Regions from separate parts of the Homo sapiens genome. Here region 1 is linked to region 2. Evidence: fine-mapped expression QTL. A gene starts in region 2. The other region holds a variant in brackets. All regions are shown on one strand. Distances are from middle to middle. Region 1 holds the start of LOC100506271 (a long non-coding RNA gene). Region 2 holds the start of ELFN2 (extracellular leucine rich repeat and fibronectin type III domain containing 2).

Evidence for each region. PIP is the estimated chance that this variant, and not a neighbour inherited with it, causes the effect.
Region 1: its variant is fine-mapped to the expression of ELFN2 in testis (GTEx, PIP above 0.99). The same link has a PIP of 0.9 or more in nucleus accumbens and prefrontal cortex.

Annotation. Positions count from the first base shown.
Region 1 is chr22:37,353,047-37,365,453 of GRCh38, forward strand. LOC100506271 (a long non-coding RNA gene) reads right to left here and starts at 1,793. Exons shown (of 2, transcript NR_110515.1): 1 at 80-1,793. It also overlaps a transcript of ELFN2 not described here. RefSeq lists enhancers at 1,828-2,328, 2,329-2,829. The variant C/T (reference allele first, on the strand shown) is at 6,444.
Region 2 is chr22:37,422,209-37,434,615 of GRCh38, forward strand. It overlaps ELFN2 (extracellular leucine rich repeat and fibronectin type III domain containing 2), which reads right to left and starts at 5,271. Exons shown (of 3, transcript NM_052906.5): 1 at 5,090-5,271.

The DNA of each region.
Region 1 (12,407 bases), 69 kb before region 2:
TGTCCTGCCCATGACAGCAGTAAGCCCCTTCCCAGAACCCTCTCCCATGTTCTCACCTCCCCTGCCCCCAGCTGCGTACCTTGGTTCCTTTTGATTCCTTCTCTCCACCAAAGTCCTTCCTCCTCTTGCATCCAGTCGTCAGCACGGGTCGTGAGTCCCCAGCTCTATCTGGTTCTGCGGCTGACCCAGTGGGGAATTAGGTCCTCAGGGAAAGGGGAGCGGAGGAGCAGAGTCCCTCATGGGGTCTAGTCCAATCGAGTTACTTTTATAAAAGACAGCCAGACCATTCACGCTGCAAAGATTCACCTCCGGCTGTTTTTCAGCCTGTAGCTTATTGTGCTAAGAGTGTCTGTTCCCTTCTCAGCCTTGAGTCGCTTTACAAAAGCCACCCTTCTATTACCTAGGCCTGGGTGATGCTAGGGTCCAGGACAGCATGGAGCGTTGTAAGCGAAGGAAAAGGCAAGAAGCCGCACAGCGGGAAAAGAGATTTGCAACAGGACTCTTAATTACAAATCAATGAGAGAAACGGAGATAACCTCATGGAAAAATGGACCAATGGCCCGAATAGGCATTTCACAAAAGAGGACAATCAAATGGCCCATAAAGTTATGAAAAAGTGCTCAGCTTCATCATCAGGGAAATGCGAATTAAAATCACAGTGATTAGCAATTTACACACCCACCAGAGGGACTAAAGCGCAAAAGCTACAACCCAGCCAGGCTTGGCCAGGAGGCAGCAGCCCAGGCGGAACTTTCATCTCTGGTGGATGGCAGCGTAAACCCGTGCAAGCACTTTGGGAACTCGAATGGTATCTAGGAAAGAGGAACACACATTTGCCCTATGACTGAGCGATTCATTCCTAGGTTTACACTCAACAGGAGTGAGTACATATGCCCAAGAAAAGACGTGTGAAAGAATGCTCATACCAGCTTTCTTCATCATCTTGCCAAACGGGAAACGACCCAAATGTCCATCAACGGTTGAATGCATAAATCCATTGTGGTGTATTTCACAGCAATGAAAATGATCCAACCGCTGCTCCGATCCACATGAATGAATCATGACACGTTGCTGAGGGAAAGACGCCAGTCTCAAGCGAGGACGTCGGGCAGAATTCGGTTCATGTGGAGCCCAAAGCAGGTTGGAAGTCAGGACAGCAGTTCCCCTCGCAGCCCTCGAGGGAGAGGCTGGCAGGACTGCAAAGGGCCTCATGGAGCAGTGGCCATGTTCTTCATCTTCATCAGGAGGCCATGCCATGGGTGTGTTCACTTTGTGAAATATCTATTGTTTTGATAGGCATGCTTTCTGTGTGTGTGTGTATACACGTATATATTCACTTCAGTTATAATTAACTTCACAAATAATAAAACACTGCAGAAGGTATTTAGAGTAAAAGGAATGACCACTCCCTACCCCACATGACTTAGGTATGTGACCTTCCATACCTTTTTCTATGCGATTCTATGGCTTAGTTGGGTGTGTAAAAAGAAAAAAAGAAACACACACACACACAACCCCATCCGCAGTAACAACCCCAGACATTGCCAAATGTCCCCTGGGGGTAGGGTTGCCAGAGTAAATACAGGACGTACAAATGAGATCCTACCATATCTTATGGGGTTCTTATGGGGTTTTTGCTATCTTTCATTTAATACAGGGGTTCTCACCCTTGTTACAACTGACATTTTAGGCTGGATAATTTTTTTTTTTTTTTTTGGCCTCAGCTGTCCTATGCATTGTGAAATGTTTAAAAGCACCCCCGGTGCCTTCCCACCAGATGCTGGTAGCACCTAACCATCCCCAGTGACAACCAAAACTGCCTCCAGACATTGCCAAATGTCCCCTGGGGGTAAGGTTGCCACAGTAAATACAGGACATCTAGTTAACATGCACGGTCTGAAATTCAGCTTGAACTGGCTGCCCTGCATTTTTATTTCCTTAACCTGGCAACCTACCTAGGGAGCAAAATTACCCCTGGTTGAGAACAGATGACATCTCTCGTCGCTGGTTCCTTTTCAGGACGGGAGGATACCCCCTCTTTCTTTTCGGCGCTCTGCTGTGTTCCATGATGGGGACAAGCCATAGCCTGTCAGTCTGTCCCTTGGGATGGACCAGGTGCTTGCTAGCCAGTGGGAGGTTTTCTGCCGCAAGTGACAGAAATCCCTGCTCAGTCTCACGTGGGCCACAAGCCCATCCACAGTGCTGCCTGGCAGGGAGCAGGGTGAGCACTGGCCGTTTGCCTGTTCTGCTCTTCCCCACCTCGAGTCAGCCTCATAGGTCGGCCTCAGCATCCAGGCTGGCCGGGCCCGAGGCCACCTGCGGGCCCTCCCTGATGTCTCATTGGCTGAGACTGGTCACAGCCCACACCTGACCTGTCACTGGCAGAGGGTGCGCTCGCCCTGAGACCCATCAGGAGCACCTGCCGTGGTGGCGAGGTGGAGGTGGTGCTGGCGTCCTAGGCTTCCTCTCATTGTCAAGTCCCTTCTCAGACCTCACCTCTGCAGCGGGGCCATCCCTGAGCACCCATCGATTGTGGCCTTGTCTCCCCACCCAAAGGGCTCCCTTCCCAAGTGTTGCCAGGAGCCCCAGCAGACATCTTCTACACTCAAGTATCAGCTCCTGGAGGGCCCAACTCCTGGTGACTGCTGTGGTCTCAGGCCTTCTGAGTGCAGTCCGTGGCCGGGGGAGCCTCTCCACTCACACCGAGTGAACTCAGCAAGAGAGGTTGCCTTTGTGCTCCGCAGAGTGCAGTCCAGTCCCATATCCACAGCCATGAAACCCAAATGCTCCCAGAACCATACGTCTTTTCTTCTACCTATTTGCCAGCAAACCTGACCCAAATTGACGTGAGAGTGTTCAGCGTCTTTTGTTTCTCCCACTTGCTGTGATATGTGTGCAGCTTGCTGAAGAAATAATGTGTTTCATCAGGGGGTTGTCTTGGGCTGAGTTCCCCAAAAGCAAAGCCTGAGACAGGACTTGAGTGCAGGTGTTTTTTTGGAAGGTGACACCAGAATCCAGGAGGGAGCAACCGGGGAGAGTGAGACGGGGGTTGGGAGAAGATAATACAAGGGTCGTTACGGAGGTCACTGCAGAGGGCACTGCAGGAGGGGGCGGTCAACTTCTCTAGGACCTCCTGAGCAATGTGGGGTGCTTCTCTGAAGGACTAGAGGCTGCTGGGCGCTTACCCACCTGCCCCTGGGCTCTACCAGCTGAGGGTTACCCGAAGGGCCTTCACTCCCCAGAATTCCCCAGTTGCACTTGAGGTGGGCTGAACACCCCAGAGGGTCTACAGCATGGGGCAGCCCCAGACCCCGGGGAAGAGTAACACAGGATGGGGCATATGCGCCAAGTTACCTTCCGAAAATCTGAAACATGTTTGACCCCAAGGGATTCAGGGTCCTAGAGGTGGAATTTCAGGGTTAGAGGGGGCACCTTGGGGGGAGTCTTGTATGTAGTTTGAAAGTTTTGAAACATCAAGAGCCCTCTGAAATGGCTGTCTACGTTTCACACTCCTGGCCAGGCGTGAACGTCTTTCCTCTACACCTGCGCACCCACCTCAGGTACGTCAGCTAAATAGTAATAGTCACGGCAGACACTTATGTGTGCTCTGCATGGGGCACTGTTCTAAACACTGATCCCTCACAATGACTCTGTGGGGTAGTACTGGGTTTGACACTCATTTTTTAGGTGAGGAAACTGAGGCACAGAGGATTACACACTTTGTCCACGTTCCCACAGCTGGTAAGTCCAGAGCAGGAGGGATGTGAACCACAGCACTACACTGTCTCTAACAATATCATCGTCTTTTTAGGTTTCTGCCAATCTCATGAGTGAAAAGTGATCAGGAGTTTGGAAAGTTCATTGTCTTGTTTTGTATTTCTCTGTTGTTATCAGCGAGGAATAGGCAGAGGAACAAATAACAGAGACTCCAGCCAGACATTTATTGCTTAAGTAAAATCAGGAGGACGGCAGTCTAGAGCTGGCATGTCAGCTCTACTCCATGGTTTTGGTCACGCAGACCCCTCCTCTTGTTACTTTGCTATGTGGGATCTCTGTCCCCAAGGTCTCCTCACTGCCCCATAAGGGCTGCTGGAGCCCCAACCATTATGTCTCGTATTCCAGCCACAAGAAAAAGATAAAGAAAAAGGAAATAAGGAACACCTGTCAGCTGCCTTTTTAGGACGGTTCCTGGAATCTGCTACTTCTCATTGACCAGAACTTGAGTACGGGGCCTCACGCTAGACGGGAGGTTGGGGAATGTCTTAATAATAGACCACATGCCTGGCTGAAAATGAAGGGTTTTGCTCCTGTGGAAGAAGGGAAGGTGGATACTGGAGAACAGCTTGTGATCTCTGCCACAACAGAGGAGTATCTTTGCATAGGTTTCTTCGCCATTTTTATGGCTTCATCTAAGAATTCTCTTTTCCTACTCTCCTTTTCCTCTCACACTGATCATCCTTTTCTTACTGATTTTTAGCCACACTTCTTATGGGGAACTCACTACACTTCCCAAAACCATCTGTAGCAGTGCTTGGCTCTAAGAATTTGTGTCAAAATCAAATGGGAGCCACAGGGATGGGCCCAGCTCAACACGTGGCTCACGTTAAATGCCTCACAAATGTTGGCTTCCTTCCCTTGAGTCAGGCATTGCAAAAATGTTGCGGTGCCCTAGAACCCCCTAGAGTGCTAACAACTTGGAGCCCAGGCTTATTGAAAGACAGGGCCTGGGCCCTTCTGTTTTTACCAACTTCCCTGGGTGAGAATGATACCCACTGAAGTCTGAATTTGCCCTCAATTGTTGACAAACTCTGTACTGTCATCGACTTCCTCTTGGTCAGCAGCACGAGCGTGGCCACCCCCTCCACACATCACCCTGCACGCATCTGAAGCCGAAGTGAAGTCCCACAGCCAACCTTCTCTTTGCCAGGAGAAAAAGCCCCATTTTCTCACTCATCCCTTGCGTGGCAGGGATTCCCAACCCTTCTAATTGCTATCATTCTCAGCAGGTGGACCTGGCGGGTCAACCTCCCTCCTGGCATATTCACCCTGGACTGACCATAGCCTCTCCAGGTGGAGTCTGGCCAGTACGGGAGAGCACAGAACCCTCACCTCCCCCAGGCCAGACCCCGTGATCCTATTCACATGGCCCACGGCTGCATCGGCCCTAGAAACAGCTTTGTCACTCCGTGAACCTACAGTAAGTTCAAATCCCCCCCAGTCTCCAGGAAGTAGGAGTTCCGTGTTGATGGTTACATCTGCACATGCTACAAGTGGCACAAAACCTTTACTCAAGTGAGTTCAAGCAAGAGACATCAGTTCACATGAGAAGGCAGAGGCACGCAGGTCCAGGTCCGCCGGGGCGAGCCTCGGTCCACCGTTTCTTCGAATACAGGATTTGTTCTCTTTCCACTTGGACATCTCAATGTTTCACAGAGAGGGCCCTAGTGTTTCCTAAACTGCAGAGTTTCAGGCATCTGCATCCCGATTAGATACAACCGATTCTAAAGGAGGATCATTCTTCTCGTCCCATTTCCTCTTCCTGGTTGGAACTGGGTCCCGTGGCCATTCCTAAGCCAATCACTGGCAGGGGGAGTGGGACTACCATTTCTGGCAGGTGCCAAGGTCCAGAGGCATGAGTCGGTGATGGGCCTTCTCAGCATGGCTGGAAGAGCCTGTGAGATTATCTAACAGATGAGGGGCACAGCCAGATGTGGGCCCACTGGCTGCTATCATCCCCCAAGTGAAGGGTGGTGTGGCTTGCACCCCAAGGGGAATGGGTACATGGAGAGGAGCAGCCAGATTGAGATGAGTTGTCAAGATCAAGTCAGTATGAGATGAGGGGAAGGTGGAGACTAGCTCCAAAAAAACGGCCCATCATGTTGGCTTGAGTGGCAGGGGACTGCCACTTACATAGGAAGCAGGAGGACTGGGGGCCGCTGGGCTATCTGAGATGGACGTGGGGCTGGAAGTCACCAACATATATCCATATGTTGGTATTGGAAGCCCTGGGGCTTGGGGGAGTGCACTAAGTAGGGAATCAGTGAGTCGACACTTTAGCACCTCCGTGACTGTCTCCAGCTGTGGCAGGAATCCAAGAGAGAGATGGAGACCTGGATTAAGGCCACCCGGCAGGGAATTGAAAATATAATTTGTAAAACGCAATCATCTGGTCCAAATGAGGAAGGGAAGGAGAGTAACCAAGTTTGGATCTCAGAAAGACTCAGATGGTGTGAGGTCGCTGTCACTGACCCTCAGCACAAGGGGCTCGGCTTTGCCCTCACTGGCCTGGTCCTTCTTGGGAGCCTTCCCCTGGCCTCCCTGGCCAGGCCCCTGCCACTCCCCTCTTCCTTTACCCCACTCGGAGGTTCTCCTGGCTCTCTCCTTCCTGGCTCTCGGCCCTCTATGGGGTCTATTTCTTTTGACCAAAGCATCTGCTTCCATTG[C/T]TGTATCTGCAACACTGTCGCAGCCTCCTTCATTCAGCCAACATTCTCGAGCGGCCCCTACCTGGGCCAGGCCACGGTATGAACGCTCCTCAGCTCTCAAGGCTTCCGTGCCTCGATACAGCTACGTGAAGCAGGAGTAGCTCAATCCATTTCACAGAGGTGGAAATTGAGGCTCTGGAGTTCGGAGGAGCACTCCAAGGCCCAGTACTGCCTGACCACCATGGGGCAGGGCAGACGAGCCCCAGACTTGGAGCCTACCCTAAGAAGTTTCTCGGCTTTGCTCAGGAAAGAATTCAAGTGTGAGCTGGTGGTGGAAGAAACAGCTTTACAGAGGTGATAGTGTTACAGCTCTGTGATTGCCCCTGCAGAGCAGGGCTACCCCACGGGCAGTGTGCTGACAGCAGCAGCTCAGGAGGAGTTCTGCAGTCATGTTTATACCCACTTTTCATCACATGCAAATTAAGGGGCAGGTTATTTAGAAATTTCTAGAAAAGGAGCTGTAACTTCCAGGTCATTGCCATGGAAAGGGGCAGTAACTTCCGGGTATTGCTATAGACAAAGGTAAAACTCATGGTGCTGGTGGTGGGCATGACTTCTGGAGAGAGGTGCTTTCAGGGCCTCTTCCTGTTTTAGCCACTCTTCAATCTGGTCTAGAGTTGAGTCTCCGTCTCCCACCTCAACCACACTCCCTGGTGGTCAGTCCAGCCCTAAGTTCATAGTCTGGCCTGGGGTGTCTCATCATGCATTTATGGGTGTAGAGGCAGCCAGGCCTGGGATGGGGACATGAGCTCCTGGAGTCAGGGAGAGTGGGCAGCCAGCCCTTGCCTGCGTTAATCAGCATTTGTTGGGCCTCAGTTCCCTGGTCCATACACGGAGGGTAAAAGTAAGTACCTTTTCCTCATTGGAGTACAACAGAACTCAAACGGCCTCATGCCTACCTCATGGCTCTCTTGTGAGGTGGCACTGGAAGCTCTGTGTGTGAGCACAGTGCGGACACACAGTGGGTGACTCGTCCCTCAGTGAAGTCCTCCAGTTAAGAGCCGTGGACCACGTACCTCTGTACACCCCACGCCACCCCTGCTTAGCAACCTCCATCCGGCTGGCACAGGGACAGCTCAGGGTGAGACTGAGGGGAGTCGATGATCAGCTGTCAACAGGGAGTCAGTGGGGAGACTTCCACTCTCAGGTCCTAAAGTCAGAAAGCTCCTTAGACCGAAAGCAGCTGGGAAAGCAGGGGCCAAAGACAGGAAATGGGAGCTGCAGAAACTGAAATATCAGACACAAAACAGGAGGCAAGAGCAGCTCTGGCCATGAGGCAACAAAGCAGAACAAAGAAGAGGCTCGTACAAGGCAGAACAAAAATGGAGATGAAGAACCAAGATGGCCCAGAAGCCTCACTGCAGTGGGCAGAGTGAAGCGCGGCGCTCCCCTCTAGTGCTATGTGATGGGTGGACTGTGCCCTCTGGAATGGGGTTTACAGCAGGGACTGAGCCACTCGAGGCTCCACTGTCTCCTAGGGTTACTTCCCGCCTTTAACCCTCACCTGAACCATGTCAAAGGACCGTTATAAACAGCTAAGGGACAGCCACATCCCGGCAGCTCCCCAGAGACAGAGGTGCTGTCTCCTTTAGGCTTTCCCACCACAGGTGCCAGCCAGGGCTGGTGCCTCACATGGCATGTAGAAGAAGACTTGTGAGTTGACCCTCAGAGCAAGAAACTAGGAAAAGCAATGGGGCCATGAGATGCTGCTGAGCAGCAGTAAAGAGAAAAATATGCTTTTTACTTAGCTGGAAAGGGCAAAAGGAAGACACTCCAAATGTAAAGTGACTTTCTGAGCCCCCCTCCTCCCTACCCCCTTATCCTGCCCTCCATGAGTTGCCAGTTCCATCCCACCTTCCTCCCACCCCCAGGAGAAGTTCCTGCCAGCCCCACTCAACTCCTGGGCCCAAGTGACGCCATCTCCCCTTCCACCTCCCCAGTCCCCGCAGGGTCGTTCCCTCCTCTGTGAGCAGCCTTCCAAGCCCACCCTGCTCCTGCCCAGACACAAAACAGCAAAACCACTTCCTCTCCCTTTTCCTCCATGTATAGCCTTTTCCTCCAAACAGTGGGCCCATCCCACACCATCTGACTTCTACCCCCAGGCCCCATTAACTCAGAGCCCAGGCCTATCCCTAGTATTTCCTAGGCCTGGGCGTGAGTACAAAGGGAAGCCCAAATCCTGTGTGTCTAAATACTGAAAAGTTCTCCATTCAGCTAACAAACTGTTAGAATATCCTCCTGCCTTGACAAATGTACCTTCACGATGACCTCTAACAGGTTTGAATTTCAAATTCCTGGCCTCCCTAAATGTGGTGGCCTATGGAAAGTCAAGCCCCATTCTCCGGCCCATAGGACACCCTCTTCTCGCCCACAGCACTATCTCACAACTTAAAGGGTCTCACAGGCATGCATAGAGACTGCCACCCCACGCATTCAAGCCCTGCCTACACCTCCCACACGCAGCTACTCCTTGGTCATCTCTCATGCCTAGGAGTGCCCACATGGGTGGCACGGTCCACCCTGGGAAGGACAGGCCTTGGAAACATGTCCGGGGCCAACTGGACAGTCAATCCTGGCATCCCAGGTGCTTGGAGCATGGTCAAGTGGAAAGTGTCTGGGAATGCCCGTGGGCCCTGCAGACTCATCAGCCCGTGGGGAAGAGCAGGGGGCTAGGAGAGGGTCAGAGCAGACCCTTCTCACATATATGCCCTGTGGCAGGGACCCCCTTAATCCTGGTGCCACCTGCCTCCTCCTCCCCCCGTCTCTGGGTTATAATCTAAATAACTGCCAGACGTAACCTCTTCTTCCCTGATCATGCTTCCTATGACCACAGGAAGGCTCTCCCCGTTTCCAACCCTTATTTTGGGGGGCTCATTCTTCCCATCTTTAAAGGAAAGATTTGGAGCAGACATCTCAGCAGGAACCAGAATTTTAGCAACAAGACACGAGATGCAGGGGTTGACAGGGCCGGCACAGGCCCCAGGATTATTGTACAGGTGGCATCTCTCGACACTCCACTGGCCTAAGGTTGGGACGTTGGGCCATGCCCGATCTGGGACTCGGGTCTTTGGGCCCTGACCTCCAGGGGAACAGGCAAAGTTTGGGAGTAAAGTGGGTTAGAGCTCCTTCCAGCTCTTCTGGGTATGCTGTGCTTGCTTGGGCCAATTACTGTCTCTGAGTCTTTCCCCCAAAGTGTAGAGCAGGGGTAAAGCCCCTACTTCATGGAGCTGCCGAGGAAATAAACACACCCTGGTCCACACACCAGATGTGAGGCATCAGCCCAACCCTGCCAAACCCTCTTAAAGCTGCAGGACAGATGTTTGGGCTCTACAGATCAGATGCTCTTCTGAGAGCCTTGGAAGGAAGCAGTGAGGCAGAGAGATGCTTCTACCGCCATCGTCCCTGCCCTAGAATGAGAGTCCACAGCCCATTGCCAGCACCCAAGGGGTACCCCTGCAGCTGCTGTGATCCTGGCAACAGCAGCCCAGGGCCCCCCGAGGTACCGATTCATTCCCTCAGCAGCCCCATGAAGCAGAAACAGGTGGCAGCTCCCTTGGTGGGTCAGTCCTGCGTAGTTATTTTAAAAGTCAGTTTGAAAAGGCTACCCCTGAGTCTGGTCTGCAGCCCTCCTGACAATTCCATCCACCACTTGGTTTCCTCTTGTGAATTTTTTTTTCCTGCTTAAATTAGTTACAGAGAATTCTGTTCTCTGCAATAGAAACCGGACTGAAGTCTATAAATTCACAGCCATGGTGCTTAACATATGGGGATTGAGCCATACAATTTGTTTGAAAAGTAAGTGAGAAGAGAGAGGGGCAGATGAGTGAGTTTTCTCCCCCTAGACCATTGCAGATTCTGGGAGTTATCTAAATCAGGGGAGGCGAGAGTTGCTGGAGGAGTTTCACCCCCCTGGGAACTCCTTCACACGTGACCTTGCTTAGTTTGGCAAGGACGGGGAGGACGGAAGATGCGCGGTCTGAGATGCAGGTGAGGGCAGTTTTAGAGGAGGCCAACAGAGAGAGGGGGATTTGGGGTGGGGACTGGGTAAGAATGGGTGTCGTGGGCTTGGCGCTGACAGCAGGCTGGGGCCCTAGGCCTAGGGAAGGAGAAGGGGCTGCCAGCATATGCCGGAGAGGCAGCCCGGGCCTCAACTGGAGGTTGGGCCCTAGGAGTCTAGCCGTGAAACCCTCCAGGCAGGAGTGGTGGGGAAAGCAGAAAAGCCCTAGCTTCCTGACATGTCCCCACATGCCTGAGGGAGGGGGCAATGGCTGAGCTCCCAGAACGGCAGGGCCGAGAGCAGCCTGGACAACAAGGAGCAGAGGGTGACCCACAGGTGCAGGGTTGGGAAGACAGTGACAGCGGGAGGCCAGAACCGTCACCTCCAATGCACACCTAGCATCAGGTCTCCTTCCTTGCAGACAAAGGGCCTTGGGAAGGAGGCTCATGGGGCCAACCAGTTCCCCATGTGGGAGTCCTCAGATGCAGAGACCAGGAAGCTGCAGATGGGACCTGCAATCCAGGGGAATTGGGGTAAAGTGAGACCAAGAGCAGAACTCAGAATTGGATTCCCCAGCCCCACAGTCTGGGAAGAATATGAAGAAAACACCTGAGCCAGCAGGGATCACCTAAGCCTCCCTTGGCCAAGGACTAGACAGTAAAGGCTTTCCTGGAAAAAGGGGCTTGCAGACCCTAACCTCACAACACCAATAGGATGGAAGCCTCGGGGAGGCCAGGGTGGTGGCGGCAGCAAGGGAGGATTGCCTGGGATTCAGGGCCAGGCACAGGGCCACGGGGCAGCCTCAGGGATGAGGGGCTCCGGAAGAAGCACAAGGGCTGCCAGGAAAGAGCCGGGGGTGCAGAGCAAGAGAGAGACTGGCCTGGCCACAGCCCCACTGGGACAGCTGCACTGGGCCTGTGTGAGGGCACTCAGAGGGGACAGGGGCCAGCTGGGGCCCAGGCAGGAAAACAGTGAGGGGCCAAGCCCTGGGTCATCCCAGAGGGTCCCCACAGTTCAGCCAACTCCCATGGAGGCAGGAAGGGAGCAGGAAACCCCATGGGCCACCAGAGCCAGCAGGACACAGCTCCTGTAGACACAGGCCAGGGATGAGTGCCACGCTGTGACACCAGTCACAGGGAATAGCTTAGGACAAGGGAGTTCATTTAAAGCAAGCCATAACAATCCAGGCCAAATCCAGGGGCCTTCCTGGAAGAGGGGTTGGTAGCAGTTGGAGAACAGGAGTCTGAGAAAAGGGCAGGTGGGCTCTGCCTCTGGGAAGCAAGGAGGCTGGGGCTGGGCGGTGGGCCCCAGGCTGCCCCCGAACAAAGGCTTGGGCAGTTCAGCCTGAGGTCACTGGATGCTGACCTGAGTGCCTCAGCCTGACCAGAGAGACAAGGTACCTCCTAAATCTGAGAAGGAGCAGGAATGCTTCCGGGCTGTGACAAAAATGAACAGCAGATGGTGGGAGGGCACCAGAGGAGCAGGTGGGGCAGGGGTCCAGGACAGGCTGCCCAGGCTGAGCCCAGAGGAGAGAACCAGTGGGTCCCACAGTGACCCTGGACCCACCAATGACAGGAGCAGGAGGAGGCCAGCCTCTGAGACACTGGGCCTGGGGCTGAGTGCCTGGAACCCTGCCTTCAGAGACTAAATAAAGGAGACCCTGAGAACCAGTGAGATCCAGTGATCCCCCAAACCCTGCAGCCACAAGGGCTCATTTTAGGCTCACCTCTGGAAAACATTTATAGTTGTTGAGGCAGGGGGAGCTTGAGGGAGGGGAATATTCAGCTAAACAACTAAACAGAAAAGGAAGTTCCTGGCCCAGTAGCTACAAGGGTCACCAGAGTCACCTTGGAACTGTCAACTCCTTCAAACCAAGCCCCAGCAGAGACCAGGGAACTGTGCTGAGGACACCTAGCTTCCCTGGAGCC
Region 2 (12,407 bases):
CATGCACAGTGCAGACCCCTTCCAGGAAGCCAGGAATGAACGGAGGGGGCAGATGGGAAGGGGGAGGAAAATAATGGCATCTCGCATGCCAGACAGGATGTTATACACGTGGTCTTCTCTTACCTAACCTTTAGCATGACCTTTAAGACAACCCAGAAGGGTTAAGAATTCGTTTTTTTTGTTTTTTGGTTGTTTTATTGTTGCTGTTGTTGTTCTGGCCAGGCACAGTGGCTCACGCCTGCAATCCCAGCACTTTGGGAGGCTAAGGAGGGAGGATCACGAGGTCAGGAGTTCGAGACCAGCCTAACCAACATAGTGAAACCTCGTCTCTACTAAAAATACAAAAATTAGCCGGGTGTGGTGGTGTGTGCCTGTAATCCCAGCTACTGGGGAAGTTTTTTTTGAGACGGAGCCTCACTCTGTCACCCAGGCTGGAGTGCAGTAGCACAATCTCGGCTCACTGCAACCTGGGCCTCCTGGGTTCAAGCGATTCTCCTGCCTCAACCTCCTGAGTAGCTGGGATTACAGGCATGCACCACGATGCCCGAATAATTTTTTGTATTTTTAGTAGAGACAGGGTTTCACCATGTTGGCCAGGCTGGTCTCGAACTCCTGACCTCAGGTGATCCTTCTGCCTCGGCCTCCCAAAGTGCTAGGATTACAGGTGTGAGCCACCACGCCCAACCAAGAATTCGGTACTTTTGTCCCCACTTCATATTGAGGAAACTGGGCCTCGGGGGGGGGGGGGGAAGTGACTTGCCCAGGACCCACACCGAGGAGGAAAAGAGGTTGGATTTGGAGCCCTGCCCCTGCCCTTTCCACAAGCAAGATGGCCAGGTGGGGAGTCCAGGGGGCCACAGCTGAGGCCACGATAGACTCGGGACCTGAAGAAGATACTGATCCTGGGGCAACCTCCCCACTGTCACCCGGGGGAGCCCTCCAAGCGCTGCTGTTCGAGGCACTGTGGGAGGGCCAGGGAGCAAAGGGCTGCCTTTGGGGGTGTCCCATCTCTGTGGGGAATGGGATGGGGGGTTGAGATGCAGGCACCACCCACGAGGCCCCTCCTTTCCTGTCTCTCCTTGCAGCCAAAGCAAAGGGCGTCCGCCACCCCCAGCTTCCCTAGGGCAGGGTCACTGCACCCATTTACAGATAAGCAAAGCAAGGCCCAGAAAGGGCCTTCAGTGAGAGGGGTAGGCCAAGATGTAGAGGCCTCCAGGCCCATCTGGCAAAGGAGTTCAGCAGCCAATGGTGCTGATGTGAGAGTTTCCCTTCGAGGGTTCCAGTCCTGGTTCCATCGCTGTGTGGCCCTGGACTGGTCTGTAACCTCTCTGTTTCTTGTCTTCAAAATGAGGAATAATAATAGTGCCTGCTGCAGCTGGCTTTTGTGGGACTAAACGAATGCCGCCCATAAAGAGCTTCGAACCGGGCCTGGCTCTCAGTAGGGGCTCAATAATATTAGCTGATATCATTATTATTATTATCACTATAGTTATTACTATTTCAATCAGCAGCATCGTGCAGCCAGCACCCTTCCTCTGGCACCCCAGGCATAAGCAAGCCTGCCCAGGTGGCTCTTGAGTCCTCAGGGCTTCTCTGGGGCTTTCCTGGGGACTGTCGGCAGAGCTAGGGGGAAGGAGAGGGGGCTCAATTATTCCAACCCCCAGACACCATCTCCAGTAATAATGTCAATGCCTCTGCCCCAGGTGGTAATTGAGCCAAGAGAAGGTTAATTTAATCAGGGATTGGGCTGGGACGGCAGGAGGCAGAGGACTGGGTAAACCTTCTAGACGATTAACACAGCTCCTGAAGAGGTCTAACTTGCTAAGAAGCGTCAGGTTTCGAGGCAATCCTACTTCTCGGCCATCCACTCCACACAGCACATGTCACAACATGGGGCAGGTGGGGGCACCGAGAGAGGAGCTTGGCCCCCAGGCACTGTGGCCGGAGCAGGTGAGGGTAGCAGCAATGTGTGCCTCCCAGCCCTGCACACGGTTGTCACCCTTTCACACTCACACATCACACCCGCAAGGGAAGCTGCCACCACCCTCTTACAGAGACAGGAGAGGCTGACCTCTGTCACACACAGCCAGGATGCAGATGCGGCAGGGGTGTCACTGGAACCCAATTCTGCTGCCAAAAACAAGCATCCTACAAGACCTCAGGGGATATTGAGGAACAGGCATGGAGCCCCCAGTGACCGCCCTAGACACGCCCCACTGGAGAAGGCTTGCTGAGTGTGCCCGTTCCTATCACGCTGACTGTTTCTGGAGCTTGTGGGTGGAAGAGCAAGAGAGCACTGACCTGGGAGTCAAGAGCAGCCTCTCCTCCAGCCAGAGACTCTTGGCCTTGGGCTCATCACCTGGCACCCCACCACCAATTCCTCATAGCTCCATATCTCTCCAGGAAAGGAAGGTACCCCTCGAGAAGGGGCTGGGTAATCAAATGTGTCTCCCTGTAGCCACTGAGGGCGGCGGGGGGGGGGATGGAATTCACATTAAATCAACAGACAGCTTATTCCAGAACTCAGTTTACTCATCTGTCAAATATCCACATAATAGTGGCTAACTCACCCACCTCAAAGAACTGCCGTGGAAATCCAAGGAAAGAAAAGAAAGTCCTTTGCAAAGTTAGACTTAAACCAAAACAGGAAAGCAGCTACTCTGGGCTAGGGGGATAGGAGGTGAGAGGACAGAGCTCACGTGGACTGAGCCCCCACCATATGCCAGGCATCAGCACCCGCCCCCCACAAGGCCCATGGTCTCCTTAACCCCCTTCACCTCTCTAACCCCTCACCCCATGTTACAGAGGAGAGACTGAGGCTCAGAGAGGCGACGCGAATGCTTAAATCACAAAACACAGAAAGCAGCAAAATGGGATTCGAACCAATGGCCTCACGCTCCCTGGCTATGGCCATTTTCTATTGTCACATGCACTGACACACTCACTCATTAAAGCACATCCACCCAGGGGTGGTGGGCCTGGCTGGGATGAAGAGGAAAACAGGGACTGGGGAGGTCAGATAGGGGGCTGCAGCACATTGGAGGCCTCCAGGCCCACCTGGCAAAGGAGTTCAGCAGCCAATGGTGCTGATGTGAGAACCTCCTTCGGGGGTTCCAGTCCTGGAAGGTGCACTCTTCAGGGGGCAGGACTTAAGGAAAGGGGTCCCATGCCCACTCAGGATGCTGGGAAAGGCGGCCTCTTGGGAGGGACCACGCCACGCGTCCTAAGGCTCCATCCCTCTCCCCTTCCCACCCCTCATATACAAGAGACATAACCACACTCGGCCACACACACTCCCGTGACATCACATTTACACACTCTGGCTGGGGGGAGCAACCTCCGACAAAACTGTCCCAGTGACGTCACCTGCGGCCTGGAGCTTATGTCACACCTGAGGTTCTCACTGACCTCACATACATACTTTTTCCTGATGTCCCCACAATTAACACTCTTTCTTCCTGCCTAGGCGTTGATGGCCCAGAGGTACCCACCTCCCCACCCACACAGTTGCAGGGCCCCCGGCTCATCAGGACAGCACCTGCCTGTGCACCCCTCTCAGGGGACACACATGCCCACATGCTTTGCTGATGGCCCAGACGTGACACGTCCCACAGGTGTCCACGGGCCACGAGAACAGGGGTGTCAGCCATGCACATACACATACACACACACACACACACACACACACACTCCCAGTCCCATCTCATGATGCAACTTGCATATTAAAACGCCTCTCGGTAACCGCGCCGGGCAGTCCGCGCCCCACAGCTTCCACCACATTCCTCCAGGTGCTGCCAGCACCCCACTCCCTCCAGCTTTCTGACTCCGACAGCCTGGCCTGCTGATAGCGACAGCCGCAGCCCAGACACACACACACACTCCAGCCCAACACCTGCGTCTCAGCAAGGGACCAAGGCAGTGCCCTCCAGCCGCAGCTGCTGGGTGGGAGGAGTCCAGGGGGAAGGGGCACAGCACAGAGCCCTGAGCTGCAGAAAGTGCCGAGTACCACGTTCCTCCCCAGCTGAGTGCACGGTCAGCACCACTGTCCCCTTCTCGTCTCCCTCCTTGGGCACGCCTGACACACCATGGCCTGTGGCCTCTGTTTTGGACACAAGCTCCCCGAGTGTGCATGCACACGCGCGCGCGCGCACACACACACACACACATCAGCTCCCTTCCCTCCAAACATTCCGAGGAAATCCTGCCAGGCCACTGACAGTGTGCGTGTGTGCGCTTGTGTGTATACAGACAGAGAGCAGGGTCCACCCCATGTCCACACACACACGCACACACCACACACACACAGCACGCACAATCCTCTCCACATGCACACGGCGCCCCACCAGCCAACACACCCACCCCCTCCCCGTCCCCTGACAGCTGCTGGAGCCCACACACGCACGCACACACACACACTGGCACGCGCTCGCACACACACACAAACACACACACACACACACACCCGGCAGTGGCCCCGGCCCTGCCAGAGCTGCAGTGTCTGCGATTTATGCCGCCTCCCTGGGCTGCCTCCCTCCTTGTCCCTGGCCAGCGCCTCTGAAAGGGTCCCCACCCCCCAATTCTGGTCTTACCAACCCCACCGCCGTCAAGCCCCACCCTGGCCCCCCTTCCCCTAGAAGGCATCCACCCCGTCAACCCCTCTTACCAGCTAGAGGATGAATGCCTTGACCCGGCAGCACCCCGTGAAAGAGAGGGGTTAGGGCCCCCGATTCGAAAAGATGAGGGCAGAGAGGTGCAGTGTGGCACCGGCTGGCACACCGTCCACCATCGAGCCTCTGCACCACCCCCAGAAACGCTCACCTCACCGACCGTCCTCGGTGTCCTCCCACCGCCTCCGCCCACCGCCACCACCACCACCTCCCTCGCGCAGGGTGGTCCCCCGGGGGTCTCACGGGGATCCCCAGACCCAGGAGACACTGGGGGTGGCTCTCCCCGTCTCATCCCCCCTTCCGTGTCCCTCTCCAAGCCCCACCCCCACTGACGGAGGGGGTGCCCTCCGGCTCCAGCCCCGACTCCCACCGTCTCCCCGGTCGGTCGGTCGCGGCGCTCGGATCCAGAGGAATTCACTTACCCCAGCCCCAGCCGGGATCCGGGCCAAGCACCGCCTCCGGGAAGCGGCGGCCGCGGGGCCTGCGCGTGTGAGTGTGAGTGTGAATGTGAGTGTGAGCGCGGGTGTGGGTGCGGGGTGCGTGGCCGTGGGGTGGCCCGCGTGTGTCTGTGTGTGTGTCTGGGAGCGCGCGTGTGCGCGCAGACGCCGCCGCCCCCTCCTCCCCGCCGCCGCGCCTCTGCCCCTGCCTCGGCGGGGAGGGCGCCCGGGAGGGGCCAAGCGGCGCGCGTCAGGGACCGCGGCAGGCTGTGTCCGTCTGTCCGTCCCCGTCTGTCCGTCCGCCAGCCCGCCCGCTCCCGGTGCCCTCCGCAGGCCTTTCCGCAGCAAGCCCGCTCCCGCCCCCGAGCCGGCCGCACGCTCCACGGACACACGCGCGCTCGCAGACACACGCCCGCGGGGCTGGGGCCGCGCCTGGCGCCGCCGCTGCAGCTGCAGCGCCCGGGGAGGCGAAGGCGGCCCCACGGACCCGAGCCCCGGCCTGGCGGACCCCTGTCCCGGCCGCGGCCCCCTGCGCTGCTCACCCCGCGGGATCCGGGTCCGGGTCCGGGTCCGGCCTCCGCCAGCGCATTCAACAGCTGGGGGCAAACTTGCGGCGGGGCCGCCCGAAGTGCGCCTGGACTCGCCCTCCCCCTGGACTCCGCCTCCGCTGATGGGCCCCCTCTCCGCCTTGTACCTCCATGCCCTGCCGCCTGCGCCCTGCTGGTTGGTCCCGCGTTCAACCGCTGGCGACTGGGGAAGTGCGGCTGCTGCGTTCCCATTTTACAGGCCAGACAACTGAGGTTCGGAGAGGAGTGATTCCCCCAAGGTTACACAGGGAGCCTACAGACAGTATTAGACTTTACGCTCCCCTACCTTGTGCCAGGGCACTCACTGCCTTTCCCCACCCCTCCAGGAGTAGGTCCAAGGGATACTGGGCTCATCTGTAGCTAGAGAACCTTCATTAGCCTTCCAGAGGCCCAGTTCCCCGCCCCTTACGCCAAAGCCCCTGCCACCTGCTGCCACCTGCAAAGGGGTGGATGCTGGGAGGAGGAGGAGGAGGTGGAAGATGCAAGAAGCCTGGCACCCGGGGCCTATAACTTGGTGCTTGGGCATGCAAGCACCTCCTCCCGAGGCCCTGCGAGCTGCATGTCGGAGGCCTGCTGCCAGCAGGCCCTGTACTTCTCCATCACTTTTATAGGACCGCATGCACCAGCGCCTGTTCTCAGGTGTTGCACAGCAGATGAAGTCCAGGCTGCGGGAACTCCCCGTCGGGACATCTCATGCAGGTCTGGAATAAGGAGACTCCCCAGAAGAAGCCACTGCCTGAGCTGAATCTTGATGGATGAGTAGGAGTTGGCCAGCTAAAGAAGGAGGAGAAGGGTGTCCTGGACTCTGGGAACAGCATGTGCAAAGAGGCACAGAGGCATGAAACAGCTTTGTATGTGTGTACAGGGAACTCCACGGAGTTGGGTATTAGTAGAGCAGAAAGAACGTCTGTCCAGAAATTCCTCCCTCCTTTCAACTAAGAACAGGGAACGGCCCAGGATGGGGCTGGGAGGGCAGACAAGCACTGGGTCACAGGCCACTTGTTGTCCTGGGGTATGCAGAAGGACTATTGGGCGTTCCCCACCTGCACCCCAGGCTGCCTGGCACACTCCTACCCATCCTTCAAGGTCCCTCGCTGCAAACCCAAACAAGCCATGTGCTGTCTCTGCCCTCTAAACTGAGCCCTCCTACAGGGCAGGGGCGGTATCCAACACATGGTGTGTATCCCTGACAAGGCTGGGCAAGAAGCAGGGTCCCAGCTCCAAGACCTTGCTGGAAGAGCCCCTCAGGCGGAACATAACGGCCTCTGCGCCCTCTGGCGGATCCCTCGAGAAATTAGAGTGCTCCCCAAGCCAACAGCCCCCCTGTGGCTCTCAGGCCCAGACACTTTCTGAGATGGGCACTGGCAGATGCCACCTAATCCGCTCCTGCCCAAGAAACTGAGCAGTGATGACCCCAAAGAATACCAGGGAGTCAGTGGCAAAACAGCCTCTTGCTGCTCTGTTTCCGAGACATTCCCAGTCATCTTCCAGAGTGCAAGTCACAACCCTCTCTGAGCCTGTTTCCTCCTTTGTGAAAGAAATATAGCAAAAGCAGCCAGTACCCCCAGCACAGTGCCGGCCACTCCCTTCTCCCTGGAGACCTCCAGGTCTGGCTGGATTTGGTCAGAATTTGTTTGAAGCTCTAAAACGGTCTAAGAATCTCCCTTTGGAGACTTTGCCCTTACTGGGCAGATGTACATTGACAAGAGTTTCAGCTCTTAGCTGACTTTCTGCCACCATATAGAAGATAGAGTTGGCCTGGCCTGAGGGTCATAGTGGACCACACCATCTAGACACTCGACTGGGCTTTCTCTAGACCATAGTGGAAAGGATACATGTCTGCACTGTCAAAGACAGTAGCCACTAACTGCATGTGGCTATTGAGTGATTGGAATTGTGGCTAATGTGGCTGAGGAACTAAATTTTTAATTTTAATTGTTATTACTTTAAATTTAAATAGCCATAATGTGGCTTGTGGCTGCCATGTGAGATAGTGCAGCTCCAGACATATAGCAAGCTCCTTATTAAAATCAAGCCCAGGCAGACCTAATGCACACACACAAACACACAGACACACACACAGGGAACCCTGAGGACCTGGGAATGCGGGGAGCGGGGAGCTCAGGAGACTGCCTAGAATCCGTAGCTGAATGGTTAAGACCGAGACAAACGTAAGCAATAACATGTCCATTCCCACAGTCACTGCCCCAGACCAGGCTTGCCGTCACCTGGATACCTGCAACAAACTCCCTCACCACCCATCTGTTTAAACCCTCCAGTAGCTCCCCAGAGCCCATGCACAGAGGCAAATATGTTCTCTTTCTCATGACAAGTGATTGGCAGCAGCTGCCTAGAGGTGCTCACCCTTTGCAGAAAATGGCATGATCAATTGGTGATGTCTGCCTCAGGAATAAATACAGAGATGAATGGTAAGCCCTCTCTGCTACAGGATAAAATCCAAACACTATTTATTTATTTATTTTAGAGACAGTGCCTCTCTCTGTCACCCAGGCTGGAGTGCAGTGGTGCAATCTCCACTCACAGTGGTGCAACCTCCGCTCACTGCAACCTCCGCCTCCCAGGTTCAAACTATTGTCCTGCCTCAGCCTCCCAAGTAGCTGGGATTACAGGCACCCACCACCATGCCTGACTAATTTTTGTATTTTTAGTAGAGACGGGGTTTCCCCATTTTGGCCAGACTGGCCTCAAACTCCTGAGCTCAGGTGATCTTCCTGCTTCAGCCTCCCAAAGTGCTGGGATTACAGGCATGAGCCACCGCACCTGACCAAAACTCCAAACTCTTTAACTTGCCTAAATAAGGCCCGTTGCAGTTGGTCCTTATTTATTCCTCCAGCATCTTCAATATCATCCCACATATGTTCTGGGTCCCAGCAACACCAATATCTGCCCTTTCCAGACTCACTTTCTGCCACCATATAGAAGATGGAGTTGGATCTGTCACCCCATCATCTTCACACCTTTGTGCTTTTGATCCTGTTCCCTTGATGTGGGAGGACTTTCCTCCTCTCAGATCCCTTCCCTACCTGTCTACTTTCTACCTATCCTCAGGTACTGCTTGAAAGCCGCCTCCTCAGTGAAGCCTCCCCTGACCACTCCTAAACTGAGCTGGCTGAGCTACTTCCTTCTCCACCGGCTCCCAGAACACTCTGCAAGGCTTCAGTGACAGCACACATCACATCATGTCATTATTCATTCTCTATGTGTCCACCTCCCCCAGCTTATTCTTCACTTGGTCACCTCTATCAAGTAGCAACCATGTGTCAGGGGCTCGCTCAGGGCCAGGCACTGTGCAAGGCCATTTTCACACATTATTCTTATTAATAAGCCACCAATCTAGACGTTAGGAGGTTCTCTTCCGGGCACACAGCATCCACCCCCCCTTCCCACCAGCGCCCTAATTTCTCCTCTCCCCACCACCATGGACAGTCTTGGAGGAATGTGAATCCAGGTACCACTTCCTGCCCTCAGCTGGGCTAATTGCGCTGTGGGTGGAGTGACGCGTGCACAGGAAAATTAACCGGAGCAGAACCATCCTCGAAATGTCAGTGCCAGGTGACATGGGTGGGCTGGGCACCTGCCCTGCATCCCAGAACCCCATCTGCTCGGCCTTCTCCCAGAGGTGCACAGGAGCTGCCCCTGGCTGACAGCTCACCAGAAAGTGCCCTTTATTTTCAAGGTGAACAAGCATGGCCCACATCCAAATGATCCCACTGCCCTGGCCACGTCACTAGAAAGACATTTTTTCCAGAAAGTCGTCCTTTCTTCAAAGCTTAGAGAACAGAGGAGGAAGAGTGAGAGGAACATAGAAATGCTAAAAGCTTCACGCATTGTTTAAGGTGAATAACAAGATTTACCCTTTGTACTTAGGTGAAATTTTCTTCACTTGGTCTCAGTGGCATTTTGAGTTGATGCTAAGAAAATTAGGTTAAAGTGATTCTTTCAGAGAAACACACACACACACACACACACACACACACACCCCAGAGCTTGTGCGGGGTGTCACATTCCTCCTTTGGATCCAGACCTAAAATCACATTTCTGTTGCGCCTCCAGTACTGGAACTGAGGACATCAGCTCGCTGAGGACAGGAGCCAGTGGTGAGACAGAGCCTGGAAGAAAAAGACGGGCCTGGAAGGCAAAGCGTGGTCCTTGCCCACGGTGGAACCCTGCCAAGTGGACTAGGAAGAGATGGGGGCTGAGCTGCCTTCTGGGGAAGGTGGGTCCTCTTATCTAGGAGTGTTTTGTTTTTCTGGTCACTGTGACAGGTCAGGGCATGCAAGGATGAAGGTAGTTGTCAGATGCTGGGGCCTGGGGGAGAATGAGTAGGAGAGAGAAGAGACCACAAGTCGGGAGGAAGGTGACAGGGAGGGAAGCCGACCCGCCCAGGAGGCCTAGTTGCGAAGAACACATGTATTTCTAGGAAGGATTTTGACATTCTTTTGCTGTGGTGTGTACATTACGAGCCCCCTCCCCCACTTCAGTCTCCCTACCACCTCCTTCCCCCCACTCCCTTCAGAAAAGTCTGCGTGTTTCTCCTATGAGTCATTTATTGCTTTGTAATGAATTACCTCAAAACTCAGTGGCTTAAATCTGCAAAATGACATGCTTATTATTTCACAGTTTCTGTGGTCAGGCATTTGGGAGAGGGTGATTCAGCCTTGAAATGTCTCATAAACTTGCAGTCAAGATGTTTAGCTGGGGCTCCACCCATCTGAAGGTTGGACTGGGGCTGGCGGATCTGCTTCTGAGATGCTTCCCTCACGTGGCTGGCAGGGTGGTGTTGGCTGTTGGTGGGAGTCCTCTGTGTCTTGTCACATGGACCTCTCCATAGGACTGTTTGAGTGTCCTCACAACATTGCGGCTGCTTTCTCCAGAGTGAGAACAAGTAGGAAGCCTGTGTCTCTTAAGACCTGTCCTCAGAAGTAACACTCATTTTTGCTTTCCCGTTGGTTCCATGGATCTGACCCATTCATTGTAGTGAGGGGACCACACAGGGGGTGGAGCCCAGGAGGGAGGTACCATCAGGAGCCCTCTTGGGGGCCAGTGGTTTTGAGATCAATCAATTATATTTGGGGAAGTTGAGGAAGTTCTGTGTTCTGCATCCAGACTATCAAAGACGAAAACAGAACTAGAGGAGTGGCAGCCAACACAGGATGGCCTGATTCCTTAGGAGTCCATGATTCTGAGAGCCTATGGTCTTCATTGTTTATAGACCAAGGGCAGCTCAAGGCTAATGATGCATAAAGAATGTGCATAAAGACCCTAGGGCTGGACAAGAGTCAAAGGTGGCCGAAGGTGTGGCCCCAGTGAGGGGGTGCCTGTGAGGACCAAAGGCCAGGGCCACACTCTGGGGGATATTTTGAAGTGTCCACGTGGATGCCTGTAGGTCCAGAGACCCAGCTATGGGAGGGACCCCAGAGAACCCTATTAGAGGTGCTGATGGCACCCTGCTTGCCTGGCTGGGGCTGAGATGACTGGATGGTGAGGTTTGCCAGGCTGCCTCCCCGCCAGTCTTGGTAGAGCAGCCCTGGAGTGTGCTGTCAGATAGGGAGGGGACAGGAGGACAATGGGGGACACCCCTTTTGACACACCGGCTGCCTCCACTAGAAGGTGAGCCATTTTCAGCCAATTCAACCATCTAATCCAGATCTGTGCCATGGGTGCCCAGCCCCTTGCCAGTCACAAGCAGGTGCTTGGGGAGGGTCCTGGTGAGCTGCCCCACCCAATGGTGCAAGGGCCAGACCGAGAGTGTCCATCCCCCTCCCCCCAACCCCGAGGCCTGCTCCAACAGAAGCGGGATCTGCCGAGTGTTTACAGCCCCATGGCAGATGGCCTCCTCTCAGCTCTCTGAACCAGGAGACTCCTCTGAGACACCCCCAGGGAGAGCTGGAGGAGGAGGAAGGAAGGCTCAGATCTCTGCATCTGCCTGACTTATTCTGTCCCCTAGCCAGAGGCCACTGCACCCCGCACTATTGTGTGGCTGCCATTTGGATCTGAGCACCCTTGCAGGGAGCTCTGGAATTCTGCGGGAGCCACAGCAGGGGGAGCGGAGTTAGCCTCAGCTGGCTCAGCGGCTACGAGGTCAGCCCGGCAGCCTGCATTATTAAACCATCTATCTGGCTCCCTCCAGGGAGATGCTGGGGGTGGGGGCAGGCTGCTGCCTGGGTCCGGAACTGGGGCAGCCGGCAGCTCCTGGGAGCTGGAGGTCACCGGCCTCATGGCTGGGCTTGTCACTGCTGACCTGCTGCCGGCTCCGAGGTTCCAGATGCTGTAGGGGCTAGAAAGGAGCTGACTGGCTGGTTTCTTCATGTTCTTTTTTCTGCTCAAAAACTTCTGGTCTCTGACTCCACAGGGTAAAGCGCCAGCTCCTTACGCTGGCATCTGGAGTTTTCTGCAACCTGGCCACACTCTTCCTAAAATCGTAATAATAGCTCAAAAAGGAGGTGTTTACTCTCCTTCAGGCTTGGTGCCATGTGCTCTACATGAATTAAAGTCTCTGTGAATAATGACAACAATCTACGAGGTACTTCTGTTATTCTCATTTGACTGCAGAGGCTCAGAGATGCTAAGCAATTTGACCAGGATCACACAGTGAAGAAGAGGCGATGATTCCCCCAGGCTTTCCTGCTGATGCAGCCAGGCTGTGGCCACGAGACGCTGGGGATATTTTAGGCTCAAAGCCCCATTCTTAGCCC